Linked DNA regions of Homo sapiens: region 2 is linked to region 1. The links come from fine-mapping of genetic effects on gene expression. A gene starts in region 1. The other region holds a variant in brackets. All regions are shown on one strand. Distances are from middle to middle.

What was found. PIP is the estimated chance that this variant, and not a neighbour inherited with it, causes the effect. A credible set is the group of variants that fine-mapping cannot tell apart.
Region 2: its variant is the best candidate, but not a certain one, in a credible set for the expression of USP2 in fibroblasts (GTEx, PIP 0.78).

The regions. Positions count from the first base shown.
Region 1 is chr11:119,379,518-119,383,903 of GRCh38, reverse strand. USP2 (ubiquitin specific peptidase 2) reads left to right here and starts at 2,214. Exons shown (of 13, transcript NM_004205.5): 1 at 2,214-2,431. It overlaps USP2-AS1 (USP2 antisense RNA 1), which reads right to left and starts at 2,126. Exons shown (of 4, transcript NR_034160.1): 1 at 1,996-2,126. RefSeq lists an enhancer at 2,147-3,136.
Region 2 is chr11:119,423,710-119,428,095 of GRCh38, reverse strand. All of the region lies in intron 2 of USP2-AS1 (USP2 antisense RNA 1), which reads right to left. It also overlaps a transcript of THY1 not described here. Among named protein-coding and RNA genes, the nearest start is that of THY1, 2.7 kb to the right of the region's middle. The variant G/C (reference allele first, on the strand shown) is at 2,233.

The DNA.
Region 1 (4,386 bases):
ATGGTCTCCCGCTTCTGCTCTCTTCAGAGCTGTTCTCTACACAGTAGCAAAAGGTATTTTGTTAAAACAAAAATCAGATCCGTGTCCCTCCTCTGCTCAAAACAAACTTGTCCAACCCACAGTATGCAGGCCACATGTGGCCCAGGATGGCTTTGAATGTGGCCCCACACAAATTCGTAAACTTTCTTAAAACATTATGAGTTTTTTTTAAAGCTCATCAGCTATCTTTAGTGTTAGTGTATTTTATGTGTGGCCCAAAACAATAATTCTTCTTCTACCATAACCCAGGGAAGCCAAAAGATTGGACAACCCTGTTTCAAAACCTTCCAGTAGCTTCATAAAAGCCAAAGTCCTCAGAATGGCCTTGGGGACCTACAGGCTGGGTCCTTCTCTGACCTCTCTGATCGCGTCTCCCACTCTTTCCCTATCTTTCTCTCTCTTCACTCCAGCCACATTGACTTTGTTCTTCCTCGAAAGTGGCAGGTCGCTCCCACCTCAGGACCTTTACTTTTACTCTTCTCTCTGCCTAGAACATTCTTTCCCCACATTTATGTGTAGTTCACGCCTAGCCTCCCTCAGGTCACTTGAATGTTACCTTCTCCGAACGCACCTCCTCCTTGCTTGATGTGCCCCATAGCTCTTAGCATCATCTAACATATTACATATTCTACTTATTTAGTCCTGCTTCTACTAGAATGTAAGCTCCCTGAGGGCAGGGATTGTGCCTGTTTTGTTCCCTGCTATATCCCCAGTTTCTAGAAGAGTGACTGGCATGTCCAATATCCATCTGTAAAATGAAGTGATGGAATGAGGGCCCTAAGGAAATATAACATGGTGAAACCCCATCTCTACTAAATACAAAAAATTAGCTGGGGCCGGGTGCAGTGGCTCACACCTGTAATCCCAGCACTTTGGGGGTCTGAGGCTGGTGGATCACCTGAGGTCAGGAGTTCAAGACCAGCCTGACCAACACGGTGAAACCCTGTCTCTACTAAAAATTCAAAAATTAGCCAGGCGTGGTGGTGGGCTCCTGTAATCCCAGCTACTCGGGGGAGGCTGAGGCACAAGAATCACTTGAACCCGGGAGGAGGAGGTTGCAGTGAGCCGAGATTATGCCATTGCACTCCAGCCTGGACAACAGAGCAAGACTCTATAAAAAAAAAATCGGCCTGGCGTGGTGGCGCACGCCTGTAATCCCAGCTACTTGGGAGGCTGAGGCAGAATTGCTTGAACCTGGAGGTTGCAGTGAGCTGAGATCGCGCCATTGCACTCCAGCCTTGGCAACAAGAGCGACGACACTCCGTCTCAAAAAAACAAAAAACAAAAACAAAAACAAAACAAGAGTTGAAATCAAGAAGGGAATCGTGCCTTGGACAAGAACAGGGGTGCCTCTTTCACTGCTCCTGATAAGAATGGATTCAGACATGTTTGTAGGTAGAAATTTAAGAATTCCCCTCTTGATTGCGTCTGATTTCTCTGGGAAATAGAAGAGAAGGAAGGACTTGAGGAGAGTAGCGATGGAGAGAGAGATCTATGGTGAAGATGGGAGGAGTTAACGGCAGCTGCAAGGGTTGATGGAGCAGCTGAAGTTGAAAACCTGGATTCGCCTTGGTACCCAGCTACCTGGTTGTGCGATTTTCCTCATCAACATCGGGGGAGTCGGGAGAAGGTTACATAAAAGGAATGGGAGCAGCAAAAATTCAAGTTTTGTCTCGGCTTTTTCTTGAAAAGACCAAAGAGAATTCTTTCATTGACTCAGTGCCTCCGTTTACCCACTCAGGCATTCATCACTAATCACTGGTCCCATGAAAGTAAAATGAGCGGAGAGTGTCTTTGACAGCAGAGAAAAAGAGAAGAGGCTGAGGAACAGGACCTCCCCCAGCCCAGTGAGAAGGGGAGTGGGGGACGTTTAGCCTTCCCTAAAAACTGAAAGTTGATACGCCCCAGGGCTCAAGTTCCGAGCCTTCTCCCATGACGCCTCTTCTTTCCCAATACCTTCCAGCTGCCCCGTCGTGTGACATTCCAGTCCACCTCTGTTCCTGCTCCACCCGCTCCAAACTCGCGTGCTTTTCCTCCACGTGGTTCTCTGTGTATATCGGTTGCCTGGGTGGCCCCAGCCGGAGGCCGGGCTCTAATGACGCCACAGTAGGAACAAGCCAATAGCCGTGACGCGACTCAGTGACGCGAGACGCGGGGTGTGGCTCTGCCGGCCCAGGCGCGATGAGGCGGCTGCCCGCTGGGTGGCGCCGATTTCCCGGGGAGGTCCCTTCTGGGCCCCCGGCGGAGGTGGGAGAGAGTCAGGCAGGAGCCGAGGCCGGGGAGCCCTCTTCGTCAGCTGGTGCTCACTGCGCCGCGCCAGCGCCAGCCGGGACTCACCCGCAGCTCCATGCTTGTGCCCGGTTCGACTCGTCCATACTCCAAGAAGAGGCAGGTACGTGCCACCTGTCGGGGATCCGGGAGGGGGGATTCGGGGATCAGTGCCGGTTTGGAGCTCAGAAAGTAAGGTGTCCACGACATTCTGGGCAGAGTGGACACTAGAAATATAGGGAGAGAGCCGGCTGTGCAGGGACGCTCCAGCTGTGTCTGCCAGTTGTGTGAGGGCTGCCTGCTGACAGCCCAGGGTGCCAGGAAGAGCCAACTGTGTGCTGATCAGTGTATTCTAAGGAAATGCTGCTTTGGCGGGTCCTCCTCGCTGTGCCCCGTGTATATCGGTGGTATGTGGCCTGAGCGACACTGACAAACCCCCTCCCCACGTGTGCGTGCAGCTCACTCGCTGCTCTTAAAGCTCCCCGGTCAGTTTGCTAAAGGGGGTTAGGGGCGGGGGTTGGGCAACAATTAAGCGGAAGGGGAGATTTTCCACCAATCCCAAACCAGAAAGAGGCAGCTTTGAAATTCTCACCAGTCCCAAACCAGAAGCAGGCACGCGGTGCTCCGGAGAGAGCAACTTCTCAACAGTCAAGGGAAGCCCTAGCCAACCCATTCTAGCCCTTCCCTGAAGAGTGAACATCCTACCTCCTGACCTGGCTGCCTTTAGAATGGGACTGAGCTGGAGGTAGTGGTAGGGGCTGCTCACCTCCCCTGGAATGGGCATGAGAACATCCCCCAGATGGACCCCCGTAAAGCAGAGGAAAGGAGAGCTGATTGGGCTAAGGTCGAGGCAGGCCCCCTCCTTTGATGCTGTAGATGCATGTCAGACTGGAGTCAGAATGAGGACTGGAATGAGGGCGTCCTCTGAAGTGCATCATTAGGACCTGGGCTGAGTCAGTAGCCTGTGCTAAGACAGGGTGGAGGCACCAGGCTGGGTACTCCCAGTCCTCGGGGAGAGCCATCGAGAAACGTCCTGGGAGCAGACAAGTGCACCAAGGCCAGAGAGGCTAAGAACCCCGTTCCTTCCTCTTGTGACCCTGCCCAGCCCGGCTCTGTGGCCCTGGAATCCTGAGCCCTCCCACAGGTAGAGTGGAACCACCCCAGAGGGGCCAAGCATTCTCCTGGTGGCCTGGGGGAAGCTGCACTTGCCGTATTTTTCTAGGCAAAGGGGGAAGGAGCCCAGATGGGCTTGGCCTTTCTCTGCTTGGTGGACTGGACGTCTAGGAAGATGGCAAGCCTTGTTTGCCCTTCCCAGTTATGGGACATGGTCAGTTCAGAAAACCAAGGGACTGTTCTCTGGCATTAGAAAGGCACACTTCCGGCCGGGAGCAGTGGCTCAAAGTGCAGTAATCCCAGCACTTTGGGAGGCCAAGGCGGGCGGATCACAAGGTCAGGAAATCGAGACCATCCTGGCTAACACGGTGAAACCCCATCTCTACTAAAATTACAAAAAAATTAGCCGGGCGTGCTGGCGGGAGCCTGTAGTCCCAGCTACTCGGGAGGCTGAGGCAGGAGAATGGCGTGAACCCAGGATGCGGAGCTTGCAGTGAGCCAAGATCGCGCCACTGCACTGCAGCCTGGGCGACGGAGACTCCGTCTCAAAAAAAAAAAAAAAAAAAGAGAAAGGAACACTTCCCCAGGAGTAACCCTCCTTTTCTCCCTAGGAAGGTTCACCTGGTAAGGCGCTATTATTAATAATACCACTAATTATAATAAGAAGTGGAAGTATTCAATATAATCATCAATGTTTATTGAACTCTATGGGCCATGAAATTTACAAATATTATTTTATTTAATCCTCACAACTGAGATAGACCACTATTATTACTATTAGTCCCGTTTTGCAGATTAAATAGCTAAGGTTCAGAGAACTTAAGTGACTTATCCACTATTTCAGAGCCAATAAGGGAAAGAACTAGCCTCCAATCCCAGGCCTAGAAGTCCATTAGAAAAGAATATTGGACTGAAACCTGAGTACTAGTCCCCTTTCTGCTTCTCGCTATCTGCACATGCCCTTGA
Region 2 (4,386 bases), 44 kb before region 1:
CTCTGTCGCCCAGGCTGGAGTGCAGTGGCTGCCATCTCGGCTCACTGCAACCTCTGCCTCCCAGGTTCACGCCATTCTCCTGCCTCAGCCTCCCGAGTAGCTGGGACTACAGGCACCCGCCATCACGCCCGGCTAATTTTTTATATTTGTAGTAGAGACGGGGTTTCACTGTATTAACCAGGATGGTCTCGATCTCCTGACCTCATGATCCGCCCACCTCAGCCTCCTAAAGTACTCAGATTACAGGCATGAGCCACCGCGCCCGGCCTAGATGTCACCTCTTGATGAAGGAATGTCAAAGAATTTGTGTCCACATTTTAGAATCACCACGGTAGCCTTATCTGGGTGGCTCATTTCTCTTCTGTATGGCATCACTTGGAATTACACATGCTTTTGTGGTCCCATGACAGGTCACATGCCTGTGTGGTCCCATGGCAGGTCACAGGCCTGTGTGGTCCCATGGCAGGTCAACTGGGGGCTGGCAGATCCCAAATGGTGATTGATGTAAACTGAGATAGTTCAGACTCCCTCAAGTGGCAACTGAACTCCAAAAAAGCAAGCTCCAACGTACAAACATTTCACAAGCTTCTGCTTTCATCACATTTGCTGATGGCCCATTGGCCAAAGCAAGGCACGTGGCCAAGCCCAGAATCAGCACGGAAGGGATTACACAAAAGCATGGACACCGGGCGGGGGGGGGCATGACTCACTGGAGGCCATTGATGTGACAGTCTACCATACCTGGGCAACTCCCATTTATCTTTAAAAGCTCAGTTCATGCCTGGCCTCCAAGAAGCCCTCTCTGACAGATTGGGTCATCACCTGTCCCTCCTCTGGACTCCCACAGTACCCTTTACACGTCTCTACCTCTGTGTCTACCCTCTTTTTTCTAATTATCTATGTATCATTTCTGTTTCCCCCATTGGAACAAGCCTTTGAGATGGTGTTCTACTAATCTTTGTATACCTAGCGTCTAGCCCCGTGCCTTGGAACATTATTGGTACCAATAATGTCTTAATTATTTGGTCAATTAAACCATCCATGAATAAAGTTTTTAAAATAACTATCAAAGATTAAAGTGTCTCCATTGGTGCCTTCTCTCAACTTCTGCCCTGCATTCCAAGAAATAATGTTTAGTTTGTATTTGTCACATTCTCCAACCAAATATGCAGTTCTTCAGGGAGCTGACCTTGCTCAGGAAGTTGACCTCGACTAGAGGTTAGGAGAGGTAGCGGAGTGTAGAGCAGCAGTTCCAAGATATTTTAATTTCATAGACTTAGTCACATTTCCAAAGAAGTGTGAGGGTTAACAGGAAGTTACCAATTTTCTTTTTTTTATATATAAAGTAGGACATTAAAAACCACACATACACACATATCAATACCACCATCTCTTCAGAAAAATGGAAAGGTATAACCTTAGAATGAAAGTATAGGAAAGGCAGGTGTATAGTCTCAATTAGTCAAAGATTAGAGCTCAGTATTATGGCTGCCTTGATATCAGGGAGACCTCAAATGGCCTAATTACAAGATCCCCTCCCTACTTTGCTGATGAGGTCCCCCAGCCAAACCACCCTCCTTATTGTGGGGGCCAGGCACAATTTCTGCTTAACCCTGAGTACTGGGCTTCAGCACCCTGCCAGCCCACAGAATTATGCAAACAGCCAATCACATTCTCTTACAGGAAACGGGGGCATTCCACCGTTTTGACATTACAAAGCCTGCCTCCCACAGCTCCTGGTAATACCTGTTTCTGAGTGCAACTCCCATGAAGCAGTTCATGGCGTGCAGTGTTATCCTCCCAGGTATGAGCATATGTGACTAATAAACTGCTATTGCTCTCATTCGTCCAGTGTTGAGGTCATGTGATCCCCCTAACTTTAGGGGATGGGAATCTCTCCCTCATCAACAGGGTGAAGAACATAAAATCAAAACAAGGTGATAACCTGACAGCTATGTTCAGAGTACCCCGGACTGTCCTCGTTTTACTTATTTCACCGTGAACCAGGGAAATGAGTCTAGCAGAGATCTGAGGGTCCGCCCTGGGAGCACTGGAGAGCACAGTGGGAACATGGAGTCAGGAGACTTAAGATCTAATAGTCCAGACCATGCTTCAAAATATTTGTCTGACCTTGACAAATCATTACCTTTCTCGGGCCTCAAGTCCCAGCTATAAAATAGTGGGGCAAGCCAGGTGCAGTGGCTCCCACCTGTAATCCCAGCATTTTGAGAG[G/C]CCAGGCGGGAGGATTACTTGAGCCCAGGAGTTCAAGATCAGCCTGGGCAACATGGTGAGATCCCATCTCTACAAAAAAAAAAAAAAAAAATTAATTAGCTGGGCATAGTGTCAAGTGCCTATTGTCCCAGCTACTCAGGAGGCTGAGGTAGGAGGATCACTTGAGCCCAGGAGGTCAAAGCTTCAGTGAGTGGTGATTGCACCACTGCACTCTAGCCTAGGCAACAGAGTGAGACCCTGGCTCAAAAATAAAATAAAATAAAATTTAAAAGATGGGACCACTGTAGTCACCTCTGTGATTCTAGAAAGACAATCTGATGAAATGAGGGAATGGCTGGCAGTCCCTAGGTCATGCTAAAGGACTGTGTGTTTTTAGAAGAGTTTTTATCCCCATATGTTTCTGGGTGGGAAAACAGGAGATGGTGGGAAAAGAGAGATCTAAGAGACCAACAGGGCAGCCGCAGTCTTCTGGCAGGAAGTCTTGCCTTAGCTGGATTCCTCTAAAGCCTTGCTGGTTTCAGCACTCCGATCCTATCCACAGTAAATGGAGTTTTAAAATCTCCTCCCTCCACCACCTTGTGCTCTATCCCCTGACCTCAGATGTCTAATCAGAGCCATTAATTCCATCCAATCAGAGATCTTGCTTGGCAGACACAGAATTGCCACACCTTCTACAGTCTATACTCCCCTCCCCTGCCTAAAAGCAAGGTGCTTGGGGACCCAGAAATTAGGCCAGGTCCTCATAACCTTATCAAAATAGCACTGCTAGGCCTTCCACCCAGCAACACTCAGAGACAGGGCCAAAGAGTGGGAAACGGAGCATCCAGGGCCTCAGCCAGCAGAGCCCAGATGCCTTCTGCAGTTAAGATCCCTGGACTCAGAATCAGAAAGCTGTTAAGCAGGAAGGAGTGCGCTGCCATGAAGAGGCAGACAGAAGCCAGAGCCAGTGTGTCTGGAATGCATCAGGTAGATGAATGGGAAGATGGCTGGGATGGAGTTGGAGGGAGGAGGGAAGTCAGCAGCCAGGGGCCAGGACATTCATGGCCTTAAAAAGTATCCTACAAACAAGAAGCCAGGTTAGCTCACCTATGAAGAGGGACAGTCTTACCAGATCATGTGTTAGAGTCCCCAGATCCTGGGGAGCGTGAGAAAAGTGCAGACTCAGCTGGCTCTAGTACTAGATTAAGGAGGTCCTAGGTGGGCAAGGCCAGCTGCATTTTTCATAAAATGCCCTAGAAACCTCTGCAGTTTACCAAAGTGAATAGCTCCTTTGGACTTAACCATCTGCAAGGCTCATTCCAGTTAGAGTGTTCCATCACCCTAAATGCTGGGAAACCAAGCGAATCTCCTCCCACTTGCAAGCTTCCAACAGTGGCTTCCAACAGTGCCACTGCAGTATCAGAAACTGCAGGGAAGGTGCCAGGGCTGACTTCCATGAAGAAATAGGAGAACAGGCAGGCAGACATTGGGGAGGCCCACAGAATGTCGTGATCAGAATTCATAAAGAGGCTGGCAGGATACAAATCAATCAAATAAACGTTAGTTCAAAAAAATTCACTACACCTGTGAGTGAGAGAAAGTCATCAGCACTGTCTCTAAAAATGAGCCTAGGGCTTCTGGTGACATCCAATCGGTGGGTTATCAGGAGTGCCCCAGGTGATCAGGAGTTGGCCTCGACTCAGTCCTTTTTGTGCTGTCTCCTCCTCTTTCCCAGAGTTCCTCTCTCTCTTCTCCCACTAGGCAGGGATGAGCAAGAGGAATGGCTCACCCTTGAGAGCTGGGGTCCATAGCCCAGGTCAGTTCTCCAGCTCTCCCACTTACCAGCCAAGACAGGAGGTGAGGATTGAGATGGGATGAACCCAGCAGGCGGCCATGGGTTAAAGGTCGCCATGAATGTAATGTGCCCAGCACAGTGCCTGCTAAAAGGCAACACTCCCTTCCTGGTCTGAAGACCAAACAAGCAGACTGTACTCAGGAAAGCCAGAAGAACCTTCCAGCTGTCTGGACCAGAAGGTGCCAGCCCAGGGGCTGAAGAAGACGTAATGCCCAGAGCAAAAAGCGCCTGCAGCCCCCTGAAGGGCTGGGTGCTCTGGAATAGATGAGGGGGCGAAATGGGGCTGGGGACCAGGGACGGACAGGGTGGGTCCAGCACCT